3 separate regions of the Homo sapiens genome follow, and all the other regions are linked to region 3. The links come from fine-mapping of genetic effects on gene expression. A gene starts in region 3. Each other region holds a variant in brackets. All regions are shown on one strand. Distances are between the middles of the regions. Region 1 overlaps LOC107984642 (a long non-coding RNA gene). Region 2 has its middle 66 kb from the start of GPR135. Region 3 holds the start of DAAM1 (dishevelled associated activator of morphogenesis 1).

What was found. PIP is the estimated chance that this variant, and not a neighbour inherited with it, causes the effect.
Region 1: its variant is the best candidate, but not a certain one, in a credible set for the expression of DAAM1 in non-classical monocytes (Schmiedel 2018, PIP 0.59).
Region 2: its variant is the best candidate, but not a certain one, in a credible set for the expression of DAAM1 in fibroblasts (GTEx, PIP 0.51).

Annotation. Positions count from the first base shown.
Region 1 is chr14:59,159,976-59,170,856 of GRCh38, forward strand. The region is part of intron 1 of LOC107984642 (a long non-coding RNA gene); the gene reads left to right. Among named protein-coding and RNA genes, the nearest start is that of DAAM1, 23 kb to the right of the region's middle. RefSeq lists an enhancer at 10,725-10,881. The variant C/CAAAA (reference allele first, on the strand shown) is at 4,950.
Region 2 is chr14:59,394,038-59,404,918 of GRCh38, forward strand. No RefSeq gene overlaps it. Among named protein-coding and RNA genes, the nearest start is that of GPR135, 66 kb to the right of the region's middle. RefSeq lists an enhancer at 1,575-2,084. The variant T/C (reference allele first, on the strand shown) is at 4,955.
Region 3 is chr14:59,182,939-59,193,819 of GRCh38, forward strand. DAAM1 (dishevelled associated activator of morphogenesis 1) reads left to right here and starts at 5,729. Exons shown (of 25, transcript NM_001270520.2): 1 at 5,729-5,830. LOC107984642 (a long non-coding RNA gene) reads left to right here. Exons shown (of 2, transcript XR_001750928.1): 2 at 725-1,309. RefSeq lists enhancers at 5,232-5,471, 6,252-7,011, 6,722-6,881, 7,312-7,361 and silencers at 5,942-6,081, 6,142-6,361.

The sequences.
Region 1 (10,881 bases), 23 kb before region 3:
ACTCTAGTATTTTTTAGTGTTCCTACTTCATAAAAAAGGTAGAAACAAACTAAATGCACAGCCCCTAAAGAATTGGTTAACTCAGTTACTGAATTTATGTGTAATAATAGGTCGCTATTTAGCTATTAAAAATGAAGTTGTAGAAATACATTTATTAACATATTTACATATTAGCAGTCTAAATGTGCCAAAAAGAAAAGAATAAAATTATGTTGTACAGTCTCATTCTTGCAAAAGAAAAGTTTATATATTATATATACATATAGACAATGAATATGCCAAGGAAAATAGCTAAAAGGATATGCACTAAAATGCAAGTGATTGAATTACAGTTGAGTTTTATTTTCTTTTTTCTACAATATAATTTCAGTTTTTTCTATCATGAATATGTATTATTTGCATACATTTTAAAAGCTATTATGAGAATAATTATTTCCTGATCACCTCACTAGGTTCAGTGAGATGTAAGAAAAGCATAATAAGGCTTCACAGTAAAAAGAGTTTACGTGCTAGAACAGGCAATATATTAGAAGCCTCAGCCAAACACTAGGGTGCTTACCTCCGTAATAAACTCTCCTGTGTGCGAGATAACCATGGACAAGCCGTATCCCTTTTCTGTACCTCACTTTTTCCATATGGAAAAGCACAGTGACATTCCACACCTCGATATGATATCACTGAGATTGAGTGTATACCTCTTACATGCTCTGGGTCACAGGAAAAACCCACATACTGTCAGCACTCTGGATTTCCATTAGTGATATCAGCCATGGGTTTGTCGGCATATTTATTTAGTATTTCTATTTATTTTGCTATTATTAGATTATGTTCTGGAAATTTTTCCATGCATCATGGAGAGAGGCTTCTCTGTGGGAAATCTTAAATTGGTAATCATTTCCATCAGGAGCAAAGAAGATGTTTTGCTTTTTGCTTCTCTGTTAAGGTTGAGGAGATCTTTTATACATCTCTGTACTGTTTGGTTTTGCAGTGCAGGCTTTTCTGAAGCAAAATTTCACAGATAGTATGGCCTCTGATCAGAGAGCAGGGTAATTCAGCAAAAGGGAAATTAAGAGTTTGCAATGGCTATTTAGTCAGTGTGCAGGCCACTAAAGAGAAAGTAGATTATAAAGTAGAGAAATATCGAAAGTTGCAGGTTGATCTTCAGCTTTTATAAAGAGTCGTTATAACTTCTACATAAGATTCCACGGTTCAAGAACTCTTAAACCTTTGCAATGTCTAATGATATGGAAAAAATACTTATCTAATCATTTAAGAAGAGCAAAGGGTGATTCCTACCAATTGTTTCTTGAAATTAACAGAATAAATCCGACACTGGGTATTTAAAACTGAATAAATATCAATGTTAATAAGCTTTAAATGGGTTTCCGAGACTCTTCCTGATTAACTGTATCATGCACACTTCTACATCTGGCAGAAAACTGAAGTACTGAAAATCTTACTCTGAGGTTGTAGATGATCAGTGTCAGGTACTTAATTACGATTCATCTTCAACTCCAATTTAACCATTAATTAAAGTAGGTATCCTTGACTTGACATTCAGTGCAAGAAAAGCTCAAAAAGAAAATGTATTACACAATTCTGAAAAGCCACTGCCTGGCTCCTTTATGTGTGTTGCTCACGGTAGCTATAGCAACCAGTGTTTAAGACAAAAACACACAAAATCAAAGTCCTAGGCTGATGTGACAGCTCTCAAATGGCTTTGTTCTGTGTCTAAGATTTCCCTTCCTCCTCTTGCATCATATTTCACCCCAAAGCCTTGAATGACTAACGCACCACTTGGGGATGGGCAGACCAATGTTCACAGGAACAAAAGGGAAAAGGGTGGGCTGGAGACAGGCTGTATTAGGACCACCTGTCCTTTCGGAGAAACTAAAATGTAGATGTCCAGTGCAGCTAGTGAGACTCAGTTCCCTCCGTGTTCTGCTGGGAAAGAGACTGTTCTGCAACAGCTGTTGCGTTGTGTCGGCAGTGCCTGTCCATCCCCCTCCAGGAGCATAGATGGGGTCAGCCCCTGCATTGCTCAGCCACAAACTCACCGTAACCTTCCCTGGGCTGAGCATGGGGTGGGAGGGTGGTTTCTATTTCTAGACTAAAAAAGAACAGATGACTTTTCATGTTTAGTTCTAAGTAAAGAAAGAGGAAGGGAACAGGGTGGGAGAGGGAGCTAGAATTAATACTCTGAGCATTTACAGAAAACAAATTGGGGTAGTGATTTTTATTTGGGCTTAAACATTTTAGTTAGTATTTCATTTATTATTCTAGCAGATGTGGGCCACACGTTCAAACAGAAAAGTGGTAAATAGAAACTATTCAATTTGGGCATTCATGTTTTCAACATAAAGGGACATGGACTATTGTATCCAATACTGGCCTAAAATGCTAAAAGCACACTTTTCTAGTATTCTATTAATTGAGAAAAATTAGGCCACCTCCAAAATATGGGAAATTATAGACCCCTGAATATCCCTTTTGGAAAACTACATCTGACATTACATTGCAGGGCATATTATCATGGCTGGAATATTTTTACACATGTAAACCCTTAATTGAATGACAAACTAATAATTCTCAAGAATTTCTTTAAAGGAAGTTTAATATTTTGGTTGGCAAATGTGCCCAGAGGAAGTATCACATTAATAATACTTGCTTTTAACACGGTTCATTTCTTTATATAGTCGGAATGCTTTATGGTGGATTAAATCCACAAATTGAAAAGAGAATGAATGCACTTGAGCTTTTATGACTTATTCTGTCTAAAGAATACTCTTAAGAAGCACAAAAATAAAACCCTGTCTCATGCCTGAGGGTAAGGTTAAATGATTAATGGCTTGAAAAAAAAAGAGAAAGTTACAATATATGTAAGGAAACAATCCATTAATCAGCGATGAGGAGAATATACAATATTGCTTTGCTAATGAAGATCGTAACTGTAGTCTAGCCTTGGACCTACTCAAATTAAGTTGGACCTACATCCAATGATGTGGGGATAAAAAATATAAAAAATTATTATCCATAACACAAATGCTCAATTTCCTCGGGCTCCTGGGTTCAATCACATATTTGGATGAGTTCTTTGACAGTGCTAAGTAGAGAAATGGCTTGTAGAAAAGAGTTCTAGAACTTTCCTAGATGTCTGAAGTGCTGCACATGACATTTATGCCAGAAAAGCTTATTTATTAGTTTCGACCCATGGTCAGTGCCAATGTAAGTAGCGGGTGAGGTGAGCGAACTAGGAGTCTCATTCTGTTGATCTTACCTGCATTTTTAGTATCAAATCCAAAGGAAAAGCAGCAGCATTTTAAGAGATACAGCTACTGGAAATACTTTATTTCGGTCAATTGGCAGACAAGTATAACGTGATTCCTTAATGCAAAGGGACAGATGCCTCTTAATGTAGCCATTAGCAAAAGAAGGGTATGTCTTATTGATTGCTATAGCTAAGAAGCATGCTGATAAATACAAAGTTGGCATTTATAAGGCATTATGCCTTGAGCAGTTCAGATATTCACCAGGGTGGAAACAGAGAACCAAATCAGGGGTTTCCACTACAAGTGACTTAGGCTGCTTGTCTGGCTCTTCTGACAGCCTTGGTCCAGAAGCAGAGCAACATTATAAATAAAAAGTACATAAGGGCACTAAGTGCAGGCACAAGGGACTTGGGTGAGCTGGAGAGGGGTTCCTCCTGTTAGGGTACCAAAATTCCCACCAAAGTGAACACCCTCCCTGTCTTGATCCACCGACAAGCATAGGCTTGGGGTCCAAAGAGATCTGATGTTAAAACATAATTGTTTGAACTGCACAAAGTACTCAATCTCTCTGAACCTTAACTTCTCATCTATAAATTAATGGATTTTTTGAGAAATAACAGGTAAAGTATACAAATTGCTTACTTAGCACAGTGCCAGGTACATATTAAGCCTTTTCTCTATCTCATCAATTTCATTCCCTTATTTATATCTCTGTTTTTTGTTTTGTTTTGTTTTGTTTTTTGTTTTTGAGATGGAGTCTCACTCCGTCACCCAGGCTGGAGTGCAGTGGAACGATCTTGGCTCACTGCAAGCTCCACCTCCCAGGTTCAAGCTATTCTCCTGCCTCAGCCTCCTGAGTAGCTGGGACTACAGTCACCCACAACCATGCCCGACTAATTTTTGTATTTTTAGTAGAGACGGGGTTTCACTGAGTTAGCCAGGATAGTCTCGATCTCCTGACCTTGTGATCTGCCCACCTCGGCCTCCCAAAGTCCTGGGATTACAGGCATGATCCACCGCGCCCAGCCTACATCTCTGTTTTAAACCTACATGGCAATATAAAGGCTGTTCGTTTGCATATCAATACATTCACTTAACTCAACATTTTATCAGTTGTTTGTCTTTTCTTCCCATATTTCCGCATTTGAAGACAAACCATGAAAAAAGCAGAATGGCATGGAGTTATTGTGAGGATAAAAATAGGTAATGCACATAAAGTGCATGGTGGAGGTGAGCATTCATACATCCATTCTCTCCACAAACAATTACTGAGCACTGGCAATATGTATGTGACTATGCCATACATAGTGGGGCACAAAGGAGAGCTAGAATTGGGTCCCTACATTCAAGCAGTTCACAATCTATGTGGAGTGGTAACAGGGGTATATTAAAGTATTACAGCAGAGTGGGACACCAAAAATGCTTTCCAAAAAGAGTCAATGCTCGAGTTGAATCTTGAGAGAAAGACAAATCAACCAGATTAGGAGTAGGGGAGAGTGGAAAGTGTGTTAAGGGGTTGGATAGGGGTGGGAAGGGAAGAAGTGCCAGGTAAATACAACATACCTAGAGCTTCTAAAGCACCTTTCAGTTCCCTGCTCTCAAACGTAAGCACCCAGTGATTGCCGCCCTCTGAGGAAAGCTCCCAACATGAAAGACTGAGCCCCAAACATAAAAACATAC[C/CAAAA]AAAAAAAAAAAAAAAAACAACTTTAAGGAGATACAAATAGGGCAAAGAGAACTCTTTAAAAATCATGATTAATATTATAACTGAGATTACGGAAGATACCATACCCATGAAACAAGAACAGAATGCTATAAAAATTTTAGAGAACGGCCAGGCGCGGTGGCTCATGCCTGTAATCCCAGCGCTTTGGGAGGCTGAGGCGGGCGGATCACGAAGTCAGGAAGATTGAGATCATCCTGGCTAACACGGTGAAACACTGTCTCTACTAAAAATACAAAAAATTAGCCGGGCATGGTGGCAGGCACCTGTAATCCCAGCTATTCAGGAGGCTGAGGCAGGAGAATGGCGTGAACCCCGGAGGCGGAGCTTGCAGTGAGCCGAGATGGCGCCACTGCACTCCAGCCTGGGCGACAGAGCGAGACTCCGTCTCAAAAAAAAAAAAAAAAAAAAAAAAAAAAAAAATTTAGAGAACAACAACAACAACAAAAGAGCCTTTGGAAATTAAAATCTTAAGAGCAAAGCCAAGAGAGTTGAGACATGAAGAGAAAAAAACTAAGGGATAAAATAATCTTACTTTTAAGATGGACAAAACTGAAATCTGTTACTATGTTAAAAATTTTAATTTCCCTTTTGAAGGTTTACAGACAGGAATTATTTCCAGTACCTAAAGCAGGTGACTGTGAGATAATTAATGATACCCTTCGGAAGAGGAGGTGCTGAAAAGAGTGAAAAGATAAAAATGAATTTTTATTCGGCAGTTTAGAAAAATTATTGTTTCCCATCCTGTGAGTGCTGTCAGTGCACAAAAATCATATGACATAAAGTAGGGAGACTCTATTCCTAGTGTTGCATGTGTTAAAGAATGTATATATATTGGAGACAGGGTCTTGCCCTCTCACTCAGGCTGGAGTACGGTGGTGCAATCATGGCTCACTCACCTCCCAGGCTCAAGCAATCCTCCTACCTCAGCCTCCCAAGTAGCTAGGATTATAGGCACACATCATGACACCTGGCTAATTTTTATTTTTTATAGAGATGGGATCTTACTATGTTGCCTAGGCTGGTGTCAAACAATCCACCCATCTCAGTCTTCCAGAGTGATGAGATTATAGGCATGAGCCACGACACCTGGCCAAGAATAATTTTTGAAAGAAAATAAAATCGTCTGGGTGCAGTGGCTTATGCCTGTAATCCCAGCACTTTGGGAGGCTGAGGCAGGCGGATCACCTGAGGTCAGGAGTTCGAGAACAGCCTGACCAACATGGAGAAACCCCGTCTCTACTAAAAAATATAAAATTAGCCAGGCGTGGTGGTGCATGCCTGTAATCCCAGCTACTTGGGAGGCTGAGGCAGGAGAATCACTTGAACCTGGAAGGCAGAAGTTGCTGCAAGCCAAGATCATGCCATTGCACTCCAGCCTGGGCAACAAGAGCGAAACTCCATCAAAAAGAAAAAAAGAAAGAAAGAGAGAGAAAGAAGGAAAGAAAGAAAGAAAAAGAAAGAAAGAAAGAGAAAGAAAGAAAGATGGAAGGAAGGAAGGAAGGAAAAGGAAAGGAAAAAAGAAAGAGAGAAAGAAGGAAAGAAAGAAAAGAAGATAAAATCATGACTTTCAAAGAAATATAAAATTAACACAAAAATTTTTTGGTTTGTTTGTTTGAGACATAGTCTCGCTCTGTTGTCCAGGCTGGAATGCAGTGGCACCATCTCGGTTCACTGCAAGCTCTGTCTCATGGGTTCACGCCATTCTCCTGCCTCAGCCTGCCGAGTAGCTGGGACTACAGGCACCTGCCACCACGCCCGGCTAATTTTTTTTTTTTTTTTGTATTTTTAGCAGAGATGGGGTTTCACCGTGTTAGCCAGGATTGTCTTGATCTCCTGACCTCGTAATCTGCCCGCCTTAGCCTCCCAAGGTGCTGGGATTACAGGCATAAGCCACCAAGCCCAGACTAAAAAATTTTATTCAACTCATTAAGAGTCAACCAATAAGAGATTACAACTGATTCTGAAGACAATTTAAAGTACCACACATTAACAGTGAGGTAAGAAATGCTGAAATGATTTTGAAAAACAGAACTTGGCAAGTGGATTTTGTTTCCCTTGATTTATAATACCTGAATCTTAAATGAAGCTATAAAGTATGTTAAAATTGTATTAGTGTTTGCACTTACAATAGAGCTGTGATTCTTAATTGTATTACCTCTATGTTTATTTTTAAACTTGTTATTGTCTATATTAGTCAGGGCTCACCAGAGAAACAGAACCAATAGGCTATATACACACATACACATATGTATAGAAAGAGATTTATTATAAGGAATTTGCTCACACAATTACAGAGGTGAGAAGTCCCACAGCCTGTGGTCTGCAAGCTAGAGACACAGGAGAGCTGCTGGTATAGTTCAAGTCTGAATCCAAAGGTCTAAGAACTAGGAGAATCCATGGTGTATATTCCAGTCTGAGTGTAGGAGAAGATTAATGTCCTAGCTCAAAAACAGTCAGGCTAAGAGAATGAATTTGCCTTTACCCCCCTTTTATTCTATTCAGGGCTCCAATAAATTGAATGAGGCCCATCCACATTTGGGAGGGTAATTTGTTTTATTCAATCTATCAATTCAATTGTTAATCTCATCCAAACATATCTTCACAGACACACAAAATAATGTTTAACCAAGTACTTGGCCCGGTCCATTTGACACATACAATTAACCATCATATTCACTTCAATTAAGTAAATACTCAAGGGTTGTTTCTCAAGTATTCATGATCCCATCTTAATTGAAAAGCCAAGGCCAGGCACAGTGGCTCATACCTGTAATCCTAGCACTCTGGGAGGTTGAGGTGGCAGATTGCTTGAGCCCAGAAGTTCAAGACCAGCCTGGGCAACATAACTCTACTAAAAATACAAAAATTAGTTGGATGTGGTGGTGCATGCCTATAGTTCCAGCTATTCGGGAGGCTGATATGGCAGGATCACCTGAACCTGGGTAGGTCAAGGCTGCAGTGAGCCATGATTGCACCACTGCACTTCAGCTGGGTGACAGAGTAAGACAGACAGACACTCAGAAAGAAAAAGAAAGAAAGAAAGAGAAAGAAAGAAAGAAAGAAAGAAAGAAAGAAAGAAAGAAAGAAAGAGAAAGAAAGAAAGAAAGAAAGAAAGAAAGAAAGAAAGAAAGAAAGAAAGAAAGAAAGAAAGAAAGAAAGAAAAGGGCAAATCTCCTTTGACAACTTTCCGATTTTTGCCTTCCCCCAAAATGGATGATCCCTTGATAAGGCTGTCAATTAGGTAAATTATTCTTCAGCTCCTTCCTGTCATATCCTAATTTGTATTTTTTCTAGTGTCACAGCCCCTCTCAAAGACCCAACACCAGAACGTGCATGGCTAATTGGCCAAGGTATTCCTTTAGCCAAGCAAAATCAAATGCTAAAGATATTTTCTTCTCATCCATCAAACCCATCTATCCTGTGTCTCCTTTCCTAGAATTTGTTATCTTTTAATCTGAAACTTATTTCATGTTACAGAATTATGTCCTTTCCCAGGTATCATTTGCATTTTAACAGTGAAAACATAATATATATTTAAATATTGAGCACATATTGAGTACAATTTTATGTTGGGCATTATGCTCTACCTCCATCATCATACATGGTCAATTTCTGGATTCAGGAAGCTTACATTCTATTACATTAAGTAAACACAATAATTGCTATAGTAACATTATAAAGTCTCCTCAGGGTACAGTGGCTCATGCCTATAATTCCAGCACTTTGGGAGGCCAAGGCAGAAGGATTGCTTGAGGCCAGTAGTTCAAGACCAGCCCAGGCAGCATAGTGTGGCCCCTTCTGTACAAACAAAACAAAAAATGAAAATTAGCTGAGCATAGTGGTATGCACCTGTAGTCCTAGCTACTCAGGAGACTGAGGTGGGAAGATCACTGAGCCCAGGAGTTACAGGCTGCAGTGAGCCAAAATCATGCCACAGCACTCCAGCCTGGGCAACAGAGCAAGATCCTGTCTCTACAAAAAAAAAAAAAAAATTAAAGTCCCAGAACTCCTTAACTTGATATTCAATTGATTTCAACAATGGTGTCAAGACAATTCAATGGGGGAAATAATAGTGTTATCAAGAAATGGTACTAGGACAACTGAATATTCACATTCAGAAGAATGAAGGAGAAGAATGAAGTTGGACCCCTACCTCACACCACACTCAAAAATTAACTAAAAATTAATCAAAGACCTAAATGTAAGAGCTAACACTATAAAACTCTTAGAAGAAACCATGAAGTAAATCTTCATTACCTTGTGTTATAGACTTAATTGTGTTCCCCTCCAACTTTGTATGTTGAAGCCTTGATTCCCAATATGACTACATTTGGAGATACGGTCTTGAAGGAGGTGATTAAAGTTAAATGAAGTCATGAAGGTAGTGCCCTTATCTAATAGGACTGACATCTTTATAAGAAGAAGAAAGGGCATGAGAGCTATCTCTCTCATCACACACACAGAGGAAAGGTCATGTGAGAAGGTAGCCATCTAGAAGTCCAAAAGAGAGGCCTTACCAGAAACCAATTCTGCTGGCACTTTAGTTCTTGGACTTTTAGCCTCCAGAACTGTGAAAAAATAAATTTCTGTTGTTTAAGCCACACAGTATTTAGTATTTTGTTGTGGCAGCCAGAGCAGACTAATATACCTTGGGTTAAGCAATGATTTAGATATACAACACCAAAAGCATATGCAACCAAAGAAAAATAGGTAAATTGGACTTCACTAAAATTAAATATTTTTGTGCTTCAAAAGATGCCATCAAGAAAGTGAAAGATAACCCAAGCAATGGGAGAAGATATTTGAAAATCATATATCTGAGAAGGGACTTGTATCCAGAATATATAAAGAACTTTTGAATAGACATTTCTCCAAAGACATACAAATGGCCACTAAATATAAGAAAAGATGCTTAACCTTCTTAAATCATTAGGGAAATGCAAATCAAAACCCTAATGAGATACCTTATCACACAATCTAAGATAGCTACAATTTTAAAAATACAATTTAAAAAATTGTTATTTAAAAATAATATAAACAACTGTTGGGGAGGATATGGAAAAATTTGAACCCTCATACACTGCTGATAGGAGTGTAAAATGGTACAGCCACTTTGGAAAACAGTTTGGCACTTAAGCATAGAGTGACTATATGACCCAGAAATTCCATCTCCAAAAGAATTGAAAACATATGTCTACACACAAACTTGTACATAAGTGTTTATACCAGCATTGTTTTTTGTTTGTTTGTTTGTTTTGTTTTGTTTTGTTTTGTTTGAGACAGGTCTTGCTCTGCTGCCCAAGCTGGAGTGCAGTGGTGCAATTTCAGGTCATTGCAGCCTCTGCCTCCCCGATTCAAGTGATTCTCCTGCCTTAGCCTCCCGAGTAGCTGGGATTACAGGTGCACACCACCATGCCTCGCTAATTTTTGTATTTTTAGTAGAGATGGGGTTTCCCTATGTTGTCTAGGCTGGTCTCGAACTCCTGACCTCAGGTGATCTGCCTGTCTCGGCCTCCCAAAGTGCTGGGATTATAAGTGTGAGCCACCGCACCTGGCTCCAGCATTGTTCATAACAGTTAAAAAGTAGAAACCTCCCCAATGTCCATCAACTGATGAGTGGATAAAAGTAATGTAGTATATCCATACAGCAGAATATTATTCAGCCATAAAAAGGGATAAAGTATTGATACATGCTAAAATATGGATGAAACTTGAAAACATTATGCTAAATGAAAGAAGCCAGTCACAAAGACCACATATTGTATGTTTCCATTTATGTGAAATGTCCAGAATAGCCAAAACTGTAGACAAAAAAAGTAAATTAGTAGTTGCCAGGGGTTAAGGGGAATGGACAATGAGGACTGACTGCTAAAGGGGTATAGGGTATTTTTT
Region 2 (10,881 bases), 210 kb after region 3:
TAGATATTTTGAGGAAACTTTTTAGTATCAAATGTAAACTTTAAAACAAATTTAGTAACCAGATTGGATTATGTTTATTATACCAAAAACTCCCAGCATACATGGTTATGACCATTCTAGCATCTCATGGACTCTGACTCAAACCCAAGCAGAGATGGCTTAATCACATCTATTTAATAAGGCTTAGAGGTGGCAATCAGGTTGCAAGAAGGAAAGGGGTGGGGGGAGAGAGAGAGAGAGAGAGAGAAAGAGAGAGAGAGAAAGTTACTGGGCTTAGAGGATTTATCTTTATGATGTGTTGATATAGCAATCAAAGGTTCCCATTTCATCAATCAATAGTCCCCATTTACTTTAGAGTAAAAGCCAAAGGCTTTGCAATGAACAAGACCCTACGTGAGCTAGCCGCCTGCTCCATGCCTCTCTCAAGTCATCCCTGAGTCATTTCTGCTCATTGATGCCAGCCACGTGGGCTTCTTGCTTGCTTTTTCTTTTTTTTTTTTTTTTTTTTTTTTTTTTGAGACTGAATAGCTGGGATTACTGGTGCCTCCCAACACGCCCAGCTAAATTTTGTAATTTTAGTAGAGACAGGGTTTCACCATGTTGGCCAGGCTGGTCTTAAACTCCTGACCTCAAGTGATCCGCCCACCTTGGCCTCCCAAAGTGCTGGAATTACAGGTGTGAGACACTGAGCCCAGCCTTCCTTGCTTTCTTTTGTAGGTGTGTACCTCAGAGCCTTTGCACTGCATCTCCCTCGGACTAGAATGCTTTTCCCCTCATTTTCCGTGGGACTCTCTTTCTTGCTTCCATCAGGTCTTCATTCAAAAGACTCCTCAGTAAGGCCTACCCTGCTCTGTCCACCCTACTTAAAATTCCCCTGTCCCTACAATCCCAATCTCACGTATGCAGCTCTATTTTGCCATAGGACTTGCTTTCTAACACACACATCTAATTTGTATACTTTGTGTATTATCTGTCCCCTCATCCCATACTAGAGTATAAGATTCACAAAGGCAGTTTTTTTAACCTATTTTGTTTATTGGAATATTCAGTATTTGGAAAAAGTACCCAGTACATGTGGGCCCTCAGCCCATGTGTGTGGAATGAATGGATGGATACCTGAATAAACGAAGAGCAAGCATACTAATTGTACTTAAATCGTGTAATACTTGGGGTGGCTTATAGGAATTGAGAAGATTTGGGGGTGGCAAAGTAAGGTCCCCAAAATACCTCTTGATTTTTTTTTATTACAACAAGACATTTATAGGAGATTGACTCCAAAGGATAAGGATGGGGAGTGGGAGAGAGAGAGAGAGGGACCGAGGGAAAGAATGAGTGATGTGAGGAGGGGAGAGAAGAGAAGGGGAAGAAGGATGAGACTTAACTGACAACAGAAATATGAATGATGACTGATGGAAACAAGTGTACTCTAAGGGGCCCTTATGGCTTAGTATTTATGCCCTAATAAACAACCATTTGAACGAGTATTATACTCCTCAGTACCTAACCCTTTATAAAAAAGTTCTCTAAATTGTTATGCCCTAAAGGGATTTTAAACACCCTGCCAGCCCTCCCCGCAGTGTCCTTCCCCTTGGAAGAAGAAAAGAAGTTGGAGCCCACCAGGAAGTGCCAAACCCTTTTGACTTTGTCCTCTGTTACACAAACACACAAGAGCTCAGAAAGCACACACGTTTTTAGAGGGAGAATTCTTTCCCTTCTCCCAGTTCCCATGAGGACTGAGTTTTCTTCTGGCCTCTCCCTACCCATTTACTCAGTCTACCCTAGGGATTGGTAAATTTCAGAATAACAACAGGTTACGCTAATCTCATTCTGACCTTTTTCTCTTGAGAACAAGATGCTCAGAAGGGCTCTGCCGCATGGAGAGGCCTGCTGTGAGCCCATGACCCCTTGCAGTGGGGGGGCTGCTTTTTTCTAGGGCACAGTTAGCAGGCTTAGTTGTTCTCATTTTAAGCTACATCCTCCAACCAGGCTTCTATCAAATAAAAGTACAATTTTAAAAAAATCTTCTGTGTTAGCGTGCTGTCTGCCATAACAAAATACCACACACGAGAGCTAATATCCAGAATCTACAATGAATTCAAACAAATTTACAAGAAAAAAACAAACAACCCCATCAAAAAGTGGGCAAAGGATATGAACAGACACTTCTCAAAAGAAGACATTTATGTAGCCAACAGACACATGAAAAACGCTCACCATCACTGGCCATCAGAGAAATGCAAATCAAATGCATCTCACACTAGTTAGAATGGTGATCATTAAAAAGTCAGGAAACAACAGGTGCTGGAGAGGATGTGGAGAAATAGGAACACTTTTACACTGTTGGTGGAACTGTAAACTAGTTCAACCATTGTGGAAGTCAGTGTGGCGATTCCTCAGGGATCTAGAACTAGAAATACCATTTGACCCAGCCATCCCATTACTGGGTATATACCCAAAGGATTATAAATCATGCTGCTATAAAGACACATGCACACGTATGTTTATTGTGGCACTATTCACAATAGCAAAGTCTTGGAACCAACCCAAATGTCCAACAATGATAGACTGGATTAAGAAAATGTGGCACATATACAGCACGGAATACTACGCAGCCATAAAAAATGATGAGTTCATGTCCTTTGTAGGGACATGGATGAAACTGGAAACCATCATTCTCAGCAAACTATCACAAGGACAAAAAAACCAAACACCGCATGTTCTCACTCATAGGTAGGAATTGAACAATGAGAACACTTGGACACAGGAAGGGGAACATCACACACTGGGGACTGTTGTGGGGTGGGGGGAGGGGGGAGGGATAGCATTAGGAGATATATCTAATGCTAAATGATGAGTTAATGGGTGCAGCACACCAACATGGCACATGTATACATATGTAACAAACCTGCACGTTATGCACATGTACCCTAAAACTTAAAGTATAATAATATTTAAAAAAAAAATACCACACACTAGGCAGCTTAAACAACAGAAATTTACTTCCTCACAGTTCTGGAGGTTAGCAGTTTAAGGTCAAGGTATCAGGGTGGTTTCTAGTGAGGACTGTCTTCCTCACTTGCAGGCTGCCACCTTCTTGCTGCCTTCACCTGGCCTTTTCTCTTTGCGTGCAGAGAGACAGAGAGTGCACTCCAGTGTCTCTTCCTCTTCTTATTAGGACGCCCATCCTGTTGGATTAGGCTCCACCCTTTTGACTTCATTTAACCTTAATTATCTCCCAAAAGACCCTCCCTTCAAATATAGTCATATTGGGTCTTAGGGCTTCAATACATGAATTTTGGGAGGAAAAAATTAGGTCCATAACATCTCCCATCTGTCTTTCTTCAATTTGTTCAAAACCCAGAAGAGAAAGAGAGAAAAAGAGGTGTTACTTATTGGGGATCCCCTTAGAGATCCTAGAATCCTGCATATGCCCTTTCCTCCTAAGTTTCTTTTTCTTTTTTTTTTTTTTTTTTTCTCTTTGAGACTGAGTCTAACTCTGTTGCCCAGGCTGAAGTTCAGTGGCACAATCTCAGCTCACTGCAACCTCCGCCTCCCAGGTTCAAGTGATTCTCCTGCCTCAGCCTCCTGAGTAGCTGGGATTACAGGCGCATACCACCACGCCCGGCTAATTTTTGTATTTTTAGTAGAGACAGGGTTTCACCATGTTGGCCAGGCTGGTCTTGAACTCCTGACCTCAGGTGATCCACCCACCTCAGCCTCCCAAAGTACTGGGATTACAGGCGTGAGCCACCATGCCTGGCCCCTTTCCTCCTAAGTTTCTTAAACATATACTCTGTATATTCTGGACAACCAAAACATTAATAAAATTTAAGAATTCTGAAATGGATAAATATAGGTACTTTCACAGAATAAAAAACTCTCAAGGAATAAATCTTGAAGTAAATGCAAGACAATTTCCCAATTTTTTATAGGGCATAGTTGGGAGATATGTTATCATTTTTTTAATTTTTTTTTTTTTTTTTTCGACAGGGTGTTGCTCTGTCATCAAGGCTGGAGTGCAGTGGCAGGATCATGGTTCACTGCAGCCTCAACCGTTTAGGCTTAAGCCGTCTTCCTGCCTCAGCATCCTTTGTAGCTGGGACCACAGGTGTATGTCACCATGACCAGCTACTTTTTGCATTTTTTGTAGAGATAGAGTTTTGCCATGTTACCCTGGCTGATCTTGAACTCCCGAGCTCAAGCGATCCACCTGCCTCAGCCTCCCAAAGTTCTGGGATTACAGGCATGAGCCACCACACCTGGCTTCATTTTCATTTTGAAATCAGAAAAATTGAGTTTCAAATATTTTTATTTGAAGTTTTTATATTATAGAGTAAAAAATTATACATAGGAGGTTTTAAATCTCATATGTATACTCACAACTCAGATATTTACGTATCCAGTCCAGACCTCTGGATTTATATGTCCAACTTCCTACTCAATTTCTGAAGTAGAAAGTCTAGTGGATATCTCAAACCCAACACATTCAAAATCGAACTGATCTGTCTTAAACTTGCTCCTACTCTAGTCTGCTAGATTTTAAATGATAGCAACTCCATCTTTCTACTTCCTTTGGTCTAAAACCTTGAGGTCATCACTAACTCCGTCTGTCTTCACACAGCCCAGACACATTCCCATAGCAAATTCTTGTGGCTCTACCTACAATCCAGAATTTGATCTGTCCTCACAATCTCCACTGTTACTTCCCTCATTAAAGTATCATCATCTCTTTTTTGGGTTATTGCAGTGGCCTCCTTACCGGCCTCTCTGCTTCAGCCTTGCCCTCCCGTCTCCTGTCAATGGTCTATTCTCAACACAACAGCCAAAGTGAGGCTTTCAAAATGTATACAAAACCACATTACTCTGAACTCTCCAGTGGCTCCTTATCTCACACAGAAGCAAATGCCACAGTTCTCACAATGGCCTCCTCCACCCTAAATGATCTGAACACCAG[T/C]GCAGCACCATCAGCCCTCTGACCTTGTCCCCACCACTTCCCCTCTTCCTCCCTTTTCTTCAGCCGCACTGGCTTCCTCTTCTTCCTAGAACATACCAAGCACCAACCCACATCAGAGGCTTGGCATTTCTGTTTCCTTTGCCTGAAACATACTTCTCTTAAATATCACATCACTTTCTCTGTCATCTCCTCCAGGTCTTTGCTCTACTGTGACCTCAGTAATAACTTCCCCATGACCCAATTTATAATTACAATTCATGTCCCCATCCCAGAACCCATCCCTATTTTCTGCTCTGTTTTGCTGTGTAACACTTATCATCATATATTTTGCATAAAATTTGTTTATTACATCTCCTGATCCTATCCCACACACTAGAATATAAGCTCCATGAATTCAGAAATGTTTGTCTGTTTCATTTACTGAGTATTCCCAGTTAGAATAAGGTCTGACATACTGGGGTATCTCAATATATGTTTATTAAATTGAATGAATGACTTCAGTATGTCATTCTCTTTCTTTGATAGGCCAAAGATGAAAAAAATAGAGAAGATATGAATAAAACAATTGATGAGATGGATTTAATAGATCTAATTTAAACAAAGATATATTTGAAAAGATAAACCCCTATTTTCAAATGTTTATGGCAGGGTTTCTCAACAACAGCTATTATATTTTATGTCAAATAGTTCTTTGTTGTGGGGGTTTCATATTACAGTGTACATTGTAAGATGTTTAGCAGCATCACTGGCCTCTACCAATTAGATGCTAGTGCAATCAATACTCTCCCACTCTCAAGTCATGACAACCAAAAATGTCTCCAGACATTGCCTAGTGGAGAGTAGCCACCTATGGTAATACCTAAAGTTGAGCCACATATACACACCAAAAATATATAATTTAATAAGAAAAGTTTAAACAAAAAATATCACAATCAATTGGAAAAAAATTCTCCAAAAATATTGAGTCAAAAATTAACCAAAACAACATCGAAGATCTGTTTTTTATAAGGCTGCCAGATAAAATATAGGAACCCAGTTAAATTCAAATTTCAGACAAATATTGAGTAATTTTTTAGTCTAAGTATGTCTCATGCAACTTTTGGGACATACTTACACCAGACATTTATCTGTTGTTTTTCTGAAATTCTAATTTAACTGGAGAACTGCCAGAATTGCTAAATCTGGCAATTCCGGTTTATAAAATAATAAGTATAAGATTGCTACATATAAAATTATAGCCACTACCTATAGAACACAGCCAAAACCGTACTAAGACAAAGGTATGTTTGTCAATGCCTTCATTTCTTAAAAAGAGAAATGACTAAAAATGAACTAAAGTTTAACTGAAAAATTTAGAAAATGATAAAATAAAATGAAAGAAAACAAATATAAATAATCTAAAGGACTCTCCCACAGTTAAATTAATTTGCAGAAGAAACCCTTGCCGACTCTACTAATAGCCTTGCTGATGGGACTGTAATATTTCAAGTTCTTTGATCCTTGGACAGTGATGGATACATTCTAATAAAGCTTAGCATTTACTCACCACTCTAGATGCTCCATCAATGTCTTCTGTTGATGTCTTTTTCCTTTAGATATATAACTGCACATGATCATCATGCTGTGTTACGTCAGTAAGATTTTTTTTTTTTTTTTTTTTGAGACAGAGTCTCGCTCTGTCACCCAGGCTGGAGTGCAGTGGCACAATCTCGGCTCACCGCAACCTGCGCCTCCTGGGTTCACGCCATTCTCCTGCCTCAGCCTCCCGAGTAGCTGGGACTACAGGCGCCTGCCACCACGCCAAGCTAATTTTTGTATTTTTAGTAGAGACCAGTGATGATGGTTACTTCTAGAGTTTTTATGGTTTTAGGTTTTACGTTTAAGTCTTTAATCCATCTTGAGTTAATTTTTGTATAAGGTGTAAGGAAGGGCTCCAGTTTCAGTTTTCTGCATATGGCTAGCCAGTTTTCCCAACACCATTTATTAAATAGGGAGTCCTTTCCCCATTGTTTGTTTTTGTAAGGTTTGTCAAAGATCAGATGGTTGTAGTTGTGTGGTGTTATTTCTGACGCCTCTGTTCTGTTCCATTGGTCTATATCTCTGTTTTGGTACCAGTACCACGCTATTTTGGTTACTACAGCCTTGTAGTATAGTTTGAAGTCAGGTAGCGTGATGCCTCCAGCTTTGTTCTTTTGGCTTAGGATTGACTTGGCAATGCGGGATTTTTTTTTGGTTCCATATGAACTTTAAACTAGTTTTTTCCAATTCCGTGAAGAAAGTCATTGGTAGCTTGATGGGATGGCATTGAATCTATAAATTACCTTGGGCAGTATGGCCATTTTCACAATATTGATTCTTTCTATCCATGAGCATGGAATGTTCTTCCATTTGTTTGTATCCTCTTTTATTTCATTGAGCAGTGGTTTGTAGTTCTCCTTGAAGAGGTCCTTCACATCCCTTGTAAGTTGGATTCCTAAGTAGTTTATTCTCTTTGAAGCAATTGTGAATGGGAGTTCACTCATGATTTGGCTCTCTGTCTGTTATTGGTGTAGAGGAATGCTTGTGATTTTTGCACATTGATTTTGTATCCTGAGACTTTGCTGAAGTTGCTTATCACCTTAAGGAGATTTTGGGCTGAGATGATGGGGTTTTCTAGATATACAATCATGTCATCTGCAAACAGGGACAATTTGACTTCCTCTTTTCCTAACTGAATACTCTTTATTTCTTTCTCCTGCCTGATTGCCCTGGCCAGAACTTCCAACACTATGTTGAATAGGAGTGGTGAGAGAGGGCATCCCTGTCTTGTGCCAGTTTTCAAAGGGAATGCTTCCAGATTTTGCCCATTCAGTATGATATTGGCTGTGGATTTGTCATAAATAGCTCTTATTATTTTGAGATACGTCCCATCAATACCTAGTTTATTGAGAGTTTTTAGCATGAAGCGCTGTTGAATTTTGTCAAAGGCCTTTTCTGCATCTATTGAAATAATCATGTGGTTTTTATTGTTGGTTCTGTTTATGTGATGGATTACGTTTACTGATTTGCATATGTTGAACCAGCCTTGCATCCCAGTGATGAAGCCAATTTGATCGTGGTGGATAAGCTTTTTGATATGCTGCTGGATTCGGTTTGCCAGTATTTTATTGAGGATTTTCACATTGATGTCCATCAGGGATATTGGTCTAAAATTATCTTTTCTTGTTGTGTCTCTGCCAGCCTTTCATAGCAGGATGATGCTGGCCTCATAAAATGAGTTAGGGAAGATTCCCTCTTTTTCTGTTGATTGGAATAGTTTCAGAAGGAATGGTACCAGCTCCTCTTTGAACCTCTGGTAGAATTCGGCTGGGAATCCATCTGGTCCTGGACTTTTTTTGGTTGGTAGGCTATTAATTATTGCCTCAATTTCAGAGCCTGTTATTGGTCTATTCAGAGATTCAACTTCTTCCTGGTTTAGTCTTGGGAGAGTGTATGTGTCAAGGAATTTATCCTTTTCTTCTAGATTTTCTAGTTTATTTGTGTAGAGGTGTTTATAGTATTCTCTGATGGTAGTTTGTATTTCTGTGGGATTGGTGGTGATATCCCCTTTATCATTTTTTATTGCATCTGTGTGATTCTTCTCTCTTTTCTTCTTTATTAGTCTTGCTACCAGTCTATCAATTTTTACAAAAAACCAGCTCCTGGATTCATTGATTTTTTGAAGGGTTTTTTGTGTCTCTCTCTCTCCTTCAGTTCTGCTCTGATCTTAGTTATTTCTTGCCTTCTGCTAGCTTTTGAATTTGTTTGCTCTTGCTTCTCTAGTTCTTTTAATTGTGATGTTAGGGTGTCAATTTTGCATCTTTCCTGCTTTCTCTTGTGGGCATTTAGTGCTATAAATTTCTCGCTACACACTGCTTTAAATGTTTCCCAGAGTTTCTGGTACGTTGTCTTTGTTCTCATTGGTTTCAAAGAACATCTTTATTTCTGCCTTCATTTTGTTATTTACCCAGTAGTCATTCAGGAGCAGGTTGTTCAGTTTCCATGTAGTTGTGCAGTTCTGAGTGAGTTTCTTAATCCTGAGTTCTAATTTGATTGCACTGTGATCTGAGAGACAGTGTGTTGTAATTTCTGTTCTTTTACATTTGCTGAGGAGTGCTTTACTTCCAACTATGTGATGTGGTCAATTTTGGAATAAGTGCAATGTGGTGCTGAGGAGAATGTATATTTTGTTGATTTGGCTGTAGATGTCTATTAGGTCCGCTTGATGCAGAGCTGAGTTCAAGTCCTGGATATCCTTGTAAACCTTCTGTCTTGTTCATTTGTCTAATATTGACAGTGGGGTGTTAAAGCCTCCCATTATTGTGTGGGAGTCTAAGCTCTTTGTGGGTCTCTAAGGACTTGCTTTATGAATCTGGATGTTCCTGTATTGGGTGCATATATATTTAGGATAGTTAGCTCTTCTTGTTGAGTTGATCCCTTTACCATTATGTAATGGCCTTCTTTGTCTCTTTTGATCTTTGTTGGTTTAAAGTCTGTTTTATCAGAGACTAGGATTGCAACCCCTGCTTTTTTTTTGCTTTTATTTGCTTGGTAGATCTTCCTCCATCCCTTTATTTTGAGCCTATGTGTGTCTCTGCATATGAGATGGGTCTCCTGAATACAGCACACTGATGGGTCTTGACTCTTTATCCAATTTGCCAGTCTGTGTCTTTTAATCAGGGCATTTATCCCATTCACATTTAAGATTAATATTGTTATGTGTGAATTTGATCCTATCATTATGATGCTAGCTGGTTATTTTGCTCGTTAGTTAATGCAGTTTCTTTCTAGCATTGATGGTCTTTACAATTTGGCATGTTTTTGCAGTGGCTGGTACTGGTTGTTCCTTTCCATATTTAGTGCTTCCTTCAGGAGCTCTTGTAAGGCAGGCCTGGTGGTGACAAAAATCTCTCAGCATTTGCTTGTCTGTAAAGGATTTTATTTCTCCTTCACTTATGAAACTTAGTTTGGCTGGATATGAAATTCTGGGTTGAAAATTATTTTCTTTAACAATGTTGAATATTGGCCCCCACTCTTTTCTGGCTTATAGAGTTTCTGCTGAGAGATCCGCTGTTAGTCTGATGGGCTTCCCTTTGTGGGTAACCCGACCTTTCTCTCTGGCTGCCCTTAACATTTTTTCCTTCATTTCAACCTTGGCAAATCTGACAATTATGTGTCTTGGGGTTGCTCTTCTCGAAGAGTATCTTTGTGGTGTTCGCTGTATTTCCTGAATTTGAATGTTGGCCTGCCTTGCTAGGTTGGGGAGGTTCTCCTGGATAATATCCTGCAGAGTGTTTTCCAACTTGGTTCCATTCTCCCCGTCACTTTCAGGTACACCAATTAAGCGTAGATTTGGTCTTTTCACATAGTCCCATATTCCCTGGAGGCTTTGTTCATTTCCTTTTACTCTTTTTTTTTTTCTAAACTTCTCTTCTCACTTTATTTCATTAATTTGATCTTCCATCACTGATACCCTTTCTTCCACTTCATTGAATCGGCTACTGAAGCTTGTGCATGCATCATGTAGTTCTCATGCCATGGTTTTCAGCTCCATCAGGTCATTTAAGGTCTTCTCTACACTGTTTATTCTAGTTAGCCATTCATCTAATCTTTTTTTCAAGGTTTTTAGCTTCCTTGCAATGGGTTCAAACATCCTCCTTTAGCTCAGAGAAGTTTGTTATTACTGACCTTCTGAAGCCTACTTCTGTCAACTCATCAAATCATTCTCCATCCAGCTTTATTCCATTGCTGGCGAGGAGTTGTGATCCTTTGGAGGAGAAGAGGCACTCTGGTTTTTAGAATTTTCAGCTTTTCTGCTCTGGTTTCTCCCCATCTTTGTGGTTTTATCTACCTTTGGTCGTTAATGTTGGTGACCTACAGATGGGGTTTTGGTGTGGATTTCCTTCTTG
Region 3 (10,881 bases):
CTCAAAGCCTAAAATATTTACTATCTGGCCCCTTACAGAAAAAAGTTTGCCAACCCCTGCGATATAGTATTATGTGCCTATGCCACAATCTATTTATCCACTGTACCGTTGATGAGCAACTGTGTTGATTTTAGTTTGGGGCTATCATGGAGTTGCCAGATTTAGCAAATAAAAATACCTAATGTCTCCTTAAATTTGAATTTCAGACAAACAATAAATATTTTTAGTGTAAGTATATCCCAAATATTGTATGGCAACCCTAGGCTATATGAATACATGTATGAATATATGAATAGCATAACTATGAACATTTGAATAGGTAACTTTTGGTGAACACATATACACAACTCTGTTAGGTATATTGCTAGCAGTGAAATTGCTCAGCCATAAAGGATGTGTATGCTCATGCTTAGCAAATACTAATAAAGATTTTTCCAAAGCAGTTTTACCAGTTTACAGTTTCACTAGCAGTGTAAGATTTGTTTCTTATCTTTGGCAATGCTTAGTATAGTTGGTCCTTTTAATTTTAACCAATGTGATGGGTATGTAGTGGTATCCCATTATAGTCTTAATTTATATTTTCCTGCTGACAAATGAATTTAAGCATTAGTTGGGCTGTCTTTTTCGTGATGGCCAGTGATTTATTATATGTTCTAGCTTCAGTTGGTGAACTAGAACAATTATATATCCTTTCTCTTTGTCTCTTCATTTTCTCTCTCTTCAGAATTTGACTTGGGGAAGAAGAAGAAAAGAAGGTGGATTTCAGCATGAAAGAATCTAAACAGTCATTAGTGAACAAATGTGTAGCAGTGCTGTCCAACAGAACTTTCTGAAGAAGTAATGGGAATACTCTGTATCTGTGATGTCCTGTATGGTAGCCACTGGCCTCACACAGCTCTTGAGCACTTGAAATGTGGCTACTGTGACTGAGTAATTGAGTTTTAAAATTTCATCAATTTTAATTAATTGAAATTTAAATAGCCACATGAGGCCAGTGACTACAGAATTGAACAGCACAGGTCTCACAGATGGACTAAGAGTAAGCCAGTTACGAAGAAGCTTATACAGGAAGACCGGCTAAAATATGTCAAAGGAGAGTTTCTCTTTCTGAACTCCGAGGAGCTGTTCAAATAAGACTGGTCTGGAGAGAGTTTTGGGTGGCTGGAGGTATTTTCACCCCTCCACTTACTGTGCCTAACCTTAGTATTGTTGCCATTCTCACGTTTCTGTATGACTCCATCTCCCTTGTTCTGTTCCGATGCCGCTTTTTCAGTTTTTCTGAGCTCTCAATTAAACACAGTGAAATGAATCTCCTCCAAGTGCCTTTTTAGTGACTAAACTGAATAGTTGGCTCAGAATGCTACAAAGTCCTCTCCCTCAGGAAGAACCAAGTTTTACCATTAAGATCCTGATAGATTTACCAGCTTTAACTGACACCTCTTGGGGTGGCTTCCAGATTCACACTTTCTCCTTTTTGAGAAGACTCCCAGACACACGGGGATAGGTCCTGAGTGATCATATTTGAGCCACACAATCTTGTTACGCTTGCTGTAGATCCATGGTTCAAAAACATTCAAGTGTGTCTGACTCAGCTGGAGGACTTGTGAAGACACATGTGGTGGGACCCATCCCTAAAGCTTCTTTTCCAGTAGGTGTGTAGGTGTGGCCCAAGTATCTGCATATCTAACAAGTTCTCAGGTGATACTGATGTTGCTGGTCTGGGGATTGTACTTTAAGATAATTAAGTCAGGGACTGTTGCCTGACATAGGACAATAAGCTTCTCTCAGGAATTTGAAATTTGGAACAAAGAGCTCGGAGTCTTAGTGCTAGTAGACCAGTGCTCTGGAGAGGTCTGAAAACTACCACTGCTTAGGTTCCTAGTTTGTCCAGTTCCTGTTTGTCTTGAGCCTTGGTTGTCTAATCCTTTGAATAAATCCCATTACATTCTTTGTTTTGCATAAACTGGCCATAGAAAGTTCTTGTTGTCTGCCCCTAAAAGAACTTTAACTAAAGTGTGAGTATGTCAGTTAAAGTGTTCCACCAAAAAAACAGAAACGATTCTAAGTAGTATTTAAAACAGAGATAATGTGGTCCAGAGAATTGGCCATACTGTGATAGAAGATCTGTGAAGCCAAACACCCAACGCAGAGATTAGCAACAGCAGGAAGCTATCTCTACCGCTAGGCAAGAGGGACAAAGGGAGAAGGTGGTGTTACAAGGCCAGGGTGACCTGGAAGAAGCTGGAACCATGACAGACCAGTCCAACAAGGAAAATGCTGCTGCCACTGCCAGAAACATCACCCAATGCACCTCTGAGGAAGTGAAGAAATTCCCTAGCTTCTCTCTTCCTCCTGCCTACAATCCCCCAGCAGTGCCTCTCCATGCTGGGAAGCTTGGGAAAAGCTCCCTATGTTACTGAGGACAGCAGGGGATCCTGAGGAAGAACATATAGATCTGAGAACAAGTCAAGGACTGGCACTGTTCAACCCTGAATTTCTCATTTTAGTCTTCAAAGTACATTTTGCCTACTTACCAATTAGAGTGAGATAATATGTGCATGCTATATTCTTTCTAATAGTCTCTGTTAAGAATAAGAATTTTTAATTTAAATGGGTTTTTATTACCTTGTTCCATAATTAGGCCTGACATTTCTGAGATAATCTTTTGGGAAAAATTGCAAATGATATCAAGAACTAACATTTGTATAGTGCTTTTCAGTTTGAAAAATATTTTTACATGCTTCATTTAATTTAATCCTCAAAAACCTCATGAAATATATATTATTATTAACCCTATTTTATAAATAAGGAAACTGAGGCTCAGAGAGAATAAATAACACAAATATGCAAAGTAACATGGATCACAAATAATGGAATGGCACAATCCCAAACCTGGGCTTAGCATACAACCTTGATTGTTGCAAAACACCAAGCTATTGCATGAAAGTACACGCAAGGCTACACACTTTCATTTCTTTCTCTCTGTTGATAACTCATTTCCTCCTTTATCTAAAATCCAGTATCTAGAGTAAAACCTTATAACCAGCACTGAGAGAGGTGATTTTAAAAGATCATCAAAATGCTTCGTGGTGCCTTCTCCTCATCCCCTACCTGTATAGACTGTCAAATCTGTTCTTAGTGGTCTCACAGGTTCCTAATTAATAGGCCACGATTATGGGATGAGGCAGGGCTTTTCATAAGGTCTTCAGAACAGCAGCAGTTATGTAAAATGAAAAGATAGAAAGTAAAGAAACCCATTTTGACTGAGAATATCAATTAGCTAGACAGAGTGGGTGTTTTTGATGATTTATGAGACTACTTGGCCACCTAGAAAAAATTAAATGCAAACATACACAATGATTGTGTATGAAAGTGAGTGAGAGAGAGTGTGTGTGTGAGTTTCCTTCTGTCTCCAAAGAAGTGGTTAAGCCTCCTCTGCTGCTAGTTCTACAGACTGTATTTCTCATGTTAAAGAGCCATCTTTGTTTCCCTTGGTTACCAATGAAACTGTGCAGGGATCAGTTCAAATCCATCACCACTTGCAGATAATTTTTCCAAACACAATGCCCTCTTTCTACATCTATTATCTATATTTATAGCTATTAGATAGGAAGAGCAGTTCACATGTGCATTTCTCCACATTTATGTGCTTACAGTCTATTGTGTATGCTGTCCTTTATATGGAGATGACTATGTCACATGGCACATCCCTATAATATTGTTAAAGAGAATGGAATTTTTGTTTTCAGACAGACTGCATCTTCTCCTTCATTACTGAAGAGCCAAGAGAACTTGTTGTAAGGTGATTTCTCCATTAAAATTACTCCTCAGAGTGTGCCTCAGTAACATACTTTTATCTACAAGGATAAGCCCTGTCTTAACAGAAAGGCTCCACATTCAATTTATTGACTCAATAAATTTCAGGCTCACTGATTATGTTTCAGTCTAAAAGCTTTACACAGTTATAAAATTAGAAGAGCCTTTAGAATCATCCCAGGTCAAGTTTCTCTCTGAATATTTTTCCACCATGAACTGCGTTACATTAAGTCTACCCATTAGTTAGAATATCAGTGATTATATCCTTGATCTGATGGCCAGGGGAAAATTTATATTGTCAGAGTTCATTTTAGATAATATTTGAAATGGAAGAAGTAGCTGAGGACAGAAGAGCAACATTCAAAGCTATCTTCTTTCGGGGGAGAAAAGTGGGTCTTGTCTATAAAGAACAGGCTTGTTAAAAGAACATCAGAATTCATCGCTAAACATCTCTCTGAGCAAAACAAAGCATTTCCTCTCCCCTGAGATCCTCAACTAATTTCATAAATATTTTTTCACTTGAACCCAACTTAGTGTTGCAGAATGAAAGGAGAAAATAAATGATAAGAGTTCCACCAACACTTCAGTAGGGAGTTGTCTGAAATCTTAATTGTGAACCTTTTTTTCACAAGATGCACAGTCTTCTAGAGATTTTGCTAGTGGAACGGGTGTGTGAGCTGATCATTATATGGAATTGAGACACATCAAATGCCATTAAAATTTACATTTACAACTCGAGTAACTAAATGCATTGATTCTTTTCATATTAAAAGACACTTGGTATTCACTGAATAATGAAAAATGCCACGGAAAAAATTATGTATTAACAATACAACCTGCCTAAAGGGTCAGAATTCTGCTACACACCTTTTGCTTACCTTTAAATAAATATTTAGGTGTGTTAAGAGCAGGGCAATTCTTGAACGGCACGATGTTGTTTGGTTTAATGTCTTTATAAAAATATTTGAAAAGGTATGGAAAATGAGGTGAGAGTGTTGTGGATTTAAAAACATGTGTATACATAGATACACAATTATTAAAACTTTAGACAAGGACGTTTTCTTCCTGGGAGTGGAGAGCCACCAGCGCGGGAAGTCTGCTGCAGGGATGAACAAAAGCATGGCTGCACGATAGTATTATCTTTGCAGCAGCAGCAGGCGCCCTGACGGAGGGTTGCGGCGACTGTCTAGTCTATCACACCGCACTTCTGGTAGTGACAACCTCCGTTATTCTGTCAGCTCAGCCGACTAAGTGGTTCCCCGCGTTCTGCCTGGTCACCTTGTCTCCGTTAAACGGGAAGCAGAAAAGAGAAAGGTGAATTGAGGGGGTACAAGGAGATTCCTCCGCCTTGGGACCGGCGTCGCCCCATCCTCTGGAAGTGTTGAGCGGGGAGAATTCGAGGACCGTATTTAACCCAGAAAACAGTAAGCCCTCTGAATTAGCTGCTACGCCTGGGGAAGGCAGAAAAGTCTTAATCGTCCCTTCCCAGCAGGGACCAAGAAAGACCAGTTAGAGCGAGCCTGGCCGGACCACGCGAGCCCCGGACCTCTCCGATCCTTCAGAGCCCGCGCCGGGCAAAGTAGAGGTCAAGTCAACACACACGACCGCAGGGCAGCCCTCCCACTCTCCCGTGCGGTCCGCAGCTCGGCTTCGGAACGACCACCGCTAACACTGCAAGGCTGTAAGGCTGGGAGGGGGCGGGTCCTGAAGGGGGCGGGAATAAGAGGCGGGGCAGAAGGGCGGAGGAGTGTGTCGGGAGATGTAGTTCCGCGAGTCCCGACAGCAAAGCTGTCCCGGCTCCGCTAATAGATTGGGACCACTACTCCCAGGAGTCTGCGCGCCCGACCGGAGCGTCCATGCGCAGTGGGAGCCACTTTGTATCCTATCAGGCGAGGAGAGGGTGATGTCACCTGCGAGTTAGTAACCTACGAGCGGCTGTGAAGGAAACTGTTTAACCGGATCCCATTGTACCCAGAGTGCAGAGCCGCCTTTCCAGCATGCAGGGGCTGCTCAGGTAAGGGGGACGCTCCTCCTTGCCCGCCGCACTCATTCATTAAGTGGCACTGCTCAGTGGTGCGGGGGTGGGCGTGCTTCCGTGGGCTGGGCGCTGGGTTCGCGGCGCGCCCTCCTGCTGCCTCCCCGGAGCTCCCGGGCCAGTAGGTAAATATTAAACCCGTCCTTCAGGTTGGGTCTGGGTGGGAACGGGACCGAGACAGCTCTCGGCTGCCTAGCTGGGGGTGGGAAAATGGCTGCAGCGCAACGCAAACCGAGGCAGCAGGGAGGAAGACGCCCCCAAGGACTGGGGTCCCTCCCTTTCTTTCTAAGGCGCCCGGCTGGCCGAGGAGCTGGCGGGGTAACACTCGCCGCCTTGCTGAAGGCTCCCCGGGGCTGGGGCCGCGGGTACTGCAGCGGCGTCCGCGAGCTCCCGGCCCGGCGGCTCCGAGAGGGAGAACCCCGAGGCAGGCTTGGTGGACACGGCGGTGGCGACAGGGAAGGAGGGACTCGTGTACCCGTTCGCGTCCGAGCAGAGCCCCCAGTGCCCCTGGCACCCTCACTTCCAGCCCCATTCGAAAGGGACGGAGCGCCTGTAATTCAGACTAAGTTGGACCTAAATGTTTCAAAACAGAGAGAAGGGAAATCGGGCGTTGCGGAGGGAGAGCAGGGTGTTGGCGGCCGGGGAGGCTGCGCCGCCTGCGGACCCGGTTGTGAGGCACCGCAGAGGGCTTTTGCCGCCCGTCCCTCTCGGGAGGGCGCATCTCAGTCTCCACGGTCCCTTGGTGTAGAGCACCTGGGCTGGGGCGAAGCGCCTGCCCTGAAGCCCTGGGCCAGGAGGTGGTAGCGCGGGGGTGGAGGTGTCGGATAATCTAATGATTAGGCTCGCTGTGGGGCAGGAGGGCTGGATAATCGGGTTTACCCAGCTGGTTCTGAAAGCCAACTGCTTGTGATCGGCTTGCCCTCTGAGTGGAGACGTGCAGGAGGCCCAGAGCTCTCAGTCCTCTGGATGTTCTTTGCCTTTCCTAGTACCTTCATTTGTTCGTTTACTCATTCATCAAACCCTGCTAAGGTCTCAAGTTGTTCACGGCCTGGCTTTGCGGAGCTACCTCTCGCCCCATAACATATTTAGTGATGCCTGAACTCCATTCCCCTCTCCTTCATCTCCACTTTCTGGAGAGCATCAAGAGCAAATGCCACCGTGACCGTTTTGCTGGTAGTTTCTTGAGATTCGAGCAGGACCCAGTGAATCGAAGCGGAGTTGCCTGCAAGATGAATCCCGTTGCCATGGCGACTCCTGCCTTCGGAATCTTAGCCGCTGCCACTGCTGTTTCGATTCGATGTGGCTCTGCGGGCAGCTGGGAGGGAGTGGCTAGTGGGTGTGGTCAAACGCTCGCCCTGGCCCAGCTGCTCTCTCCTCCTCGCCCCTTTCACAGCCCCGGGACTCTCCCCTTTCTCTCCTAAATAGCTTGGACACAGTTCTAAACCCCTTTCCCTTCCCCGTGCCACACCTCATCACGCCACCTCTCTCCCTGAAACTAATTGTTTGGCGCCTTTTTCCTGAGGCAAACTCTGAAAATTATAATTTGAAAAATCTCTTCCCCCTTTCGGGCTAGCCGCATCATTTCCCCAATAAGGTAGTTTATGGTGTTGGAGGCAGCTTTGTCATGAAAGGCGCCCTCCCCTGTTGTGCATAAAGAGAGCTCTCTGGTCACCAGCAAAGGCCCTCAATTTGCTCTAGGTGCAGCTGATTGGAAGTGATTAGGGACAATTAATAACGGCTGGAAGACACTGCAGTCCCTTGTGGTTCTCATAAAATCTAAAGCCAGGCTAGAGGGCGCAGGTCCTTGAGGGTGAAGCATGCAGGGCCATAACCAGGAGCCTTGGGTCCTACTCTGGCTCTGTCAGTCACTGGCTACTCCACGTTGGGATTAACCCTTTACCTCTGGGAACCTCAGTCTTCTCTTTGGTAATGTGAGGAAAGGGTAGAGAGGGTTTCCTAACGTTAATTCTAGGCGCAATGGCCTATGATTCCAAGATAGACTTGGTCATTGTCCTTTTTCGTCCCCGACCCCAAAGTAATCTGAAGTTAAGGGTTTAAACTTGGCTTCTGATACTGTGCCGTCAGGTTATATGGACAAGGCAGCTATGTGACTATTTATAATACTGTTTATACTACCACTACTATTATTCCAGTATCTGGACCCTTCTAATTATACTTTAGTATTATAACTAATTGTTTAGGTTTTGCCTTTTTATAGATTCCTAATGAATGCAGTTATTTGTAATTGCATTAAGTGTAATTGACATATAAATATTTTGTTTCCCCTCTGCTTGCATTTTATACCAATGTGCATTATCACAGATGTTGCAATTATGGGGGAAAGTGTGTATATGAGAGTGTCTGTGCATGTGTATCCATAGTCAGGTAAATGCTTGGGATTGCTGTGTGCTTGGTGGTTGACACTTACGATCTTATTTTAAGTAGGTAGCTACATCCCCATGAGGAAACAGGATCAGAAGTTGTCACTTTTTTCCTGGAACTTACCATTAAATGAAAATTTCCTTCATTCTTCTGCTTGTCTACCCTACTAGATTATAAGCTCCTTGAGGGCAGTGTCTTTGTTTTGTCCTTTTCTGTCCCCCCAGCATTTAGAGCAGTTTGTTCATTTGTAGGTCTTTAATAAATATATGTTAAACGAATATTAAGTAGCAGAACTATGATTGGAGATCCAAGGTCTATTATTTCCACTGATAGTTCTGTCATCCGTGGTAATATTCCCCTTAGCTTTTCTATCAAGCAGTTTCATTTCATCATAAACCAAAACTTGTCTGGCATAAAAGGCCTTCTATGTATTTGAAATAGACATATTTCCTAATTATTTGCTTTTAGAATACATTCACTCACATCGACTGTTTCTTTGTAGTTACAATTTCTTATTACCCCTGAACCAGGCATTTCTAGATTTCTCTCAGTTGCACTATCCTTGGCCCAGATAATCTTCCCAGGAGGTGTGTGACACGTGAATAGGGAGAGACACCAAGAGAAAGATACCCAGAAGCCTTTGCCAGGCCACCAGTGTCTCCCAGAAGAGCTGGGAGACAATAGTCCTCTCACCTGAGGCAGAGCCGTTCCGTAAACAGGATCAGTTGTTTCAGGCTGGTTGATGTGAAAGAAATGTGAAAGAACATTTGCCCAATATTTGTAACATGTTACCATCCAGTAGTCTGATTCTGTGGGTTTTCAGGAGCATAAATTAGTAAATTAGTGAGGAGGTGTGATAATGAAGAGGGTGTGGTGGGTCACATCCTTGGGTGGTGCTTACAGGAGCTCCATGAATAGGTGCTAAGGAATTTGAATCCTGGCTTTCTTGTTTTGTGGACATGTTCTGCTTGTTAAGGGGTGTGTGTGTGTGTGTGTGTGTGTGTGTGTGTGTGTGTGTGTGTGGTTTTGAGCTACTTTGTTTAAAAGGCTGCTTTTAGTGTTGGCACTATGGTCCTTAAAACAAATAAGGTGTTTACAAGCAAAAGTTCTGATTGAAAGTGTTTCATTTTGTAAATATTTGGGAGATGGCATAAAGAGAAACTTGAGGTCTTGTGTGAAAACACTTTAAAGTTGCAGCTGTTGGACCAGAGGAAACATGCTTTTCCAACAAAGCTTGGTATCCTTGAGTGCCCTAGGTGTTTGGTTCAGGAAATAATCACAGAGCTTGTAACTGCTGTGGGGCCCTCCCTGGCTTCAAGCCGTGCTCTGGTATTTCCAGTGTTAAGTCTATCCTTATATTGCCGGAAACAAAGCAAGGTGTCCAACTTGGGTTAGCAAACTTGTTTTCTCTCTAGAGGGGACACCAGTCAAAATAGAAGTTCTATATTCTGTTGTGATTTTTTCCTCTTTGGATGAGGAATATGGTGACTTATTTTGGTATTACAATTTCTAACTTGGTAATAGAGGTAATATTCTAAGTGAATACCAATCTTAAGTACGCACAGCATCTGTTGTAGTGGTTTCAAGACCTCAAAGTTTAGGCCGGGCGCGGTGGCTCAAGCCTGTAATCCCAGCACTTTGGGAGGCCAAGTCGGGAGGATCATGAGGTCAGGACATCGAGACCATCCTGGCTAACACGGGGAAACCCCGTCTCTACTAAAAATACAAAAAATTAGCCGGGTGTGGTGGCGGGTGCCTGTAGTCCCAGTTACTCAGGAGGCTGAGGCAGGAGAATGTCCTGAACCAGGGAGGCGGAGCTTGCAGTGAACGGAGATTGCGCCACTGAACTCCAGCCTGGACTACAGAGCGAGACTCCGTCTCAAAACAACAACAACAACAACAACAACAAAACCCTCAAAGTTTAGAGGAAATTGATTGCACAGGTACTATTTAAGAAACTGGTACTGAGAGCATTTTCTCTATTTCTGTATGTGGCTTGGAGGTAATGTCTGGTTGACAGATCAGGCTAGGGTGGATGATACCCCTCTTGAAGATGCATTCACTTAGCAAGTGTACTGTCTTTTATGTAGATTATATTATTTAGAGTGGCTGAGGCTGCTGATAGAGACCAGCGTTGAAGTGTGGATCTGAAGTTCACCCCCTTTCTCTGAGCTGTCACCTTGTTTGTAGCCCCACTGAAACAGGGACAGACGAACATGAGATTCAAGTTGATTTTAGTGACCTATATTTCATCCAGCAGATTTTTTTTTTCAGAAATAAAAGGTTACCTTTTAATTTTTTAGTATCCTTTCCACTGTTCTAGGAGCAGGGGGAGAACAGAGCATTTCAGGGAGAGTTTGCATTCATAGTCCACAAGTTTGCATACATAGAACATGTGTCTAAAAATGAACTGAATGTTAAGTCCTAGAAGCACAGCAACAAGTGTGCAGAGCCTTCCCCATCACTCCCAATTAATCTGGGGTTACCAAATACACCCTCAGCTTTGGTGAGCTTGTTTTCCTCATTGATGTTTAAGCGTTCCTGGTTTTTACTCTGTCTGTGACTTTCTGCAGTAATGGCTGTCCACGTCTGGAATGTGCTTCCCTCTGAGTGTCTGGATTATCTTGTGCTTTCATATCTAGCTCAGG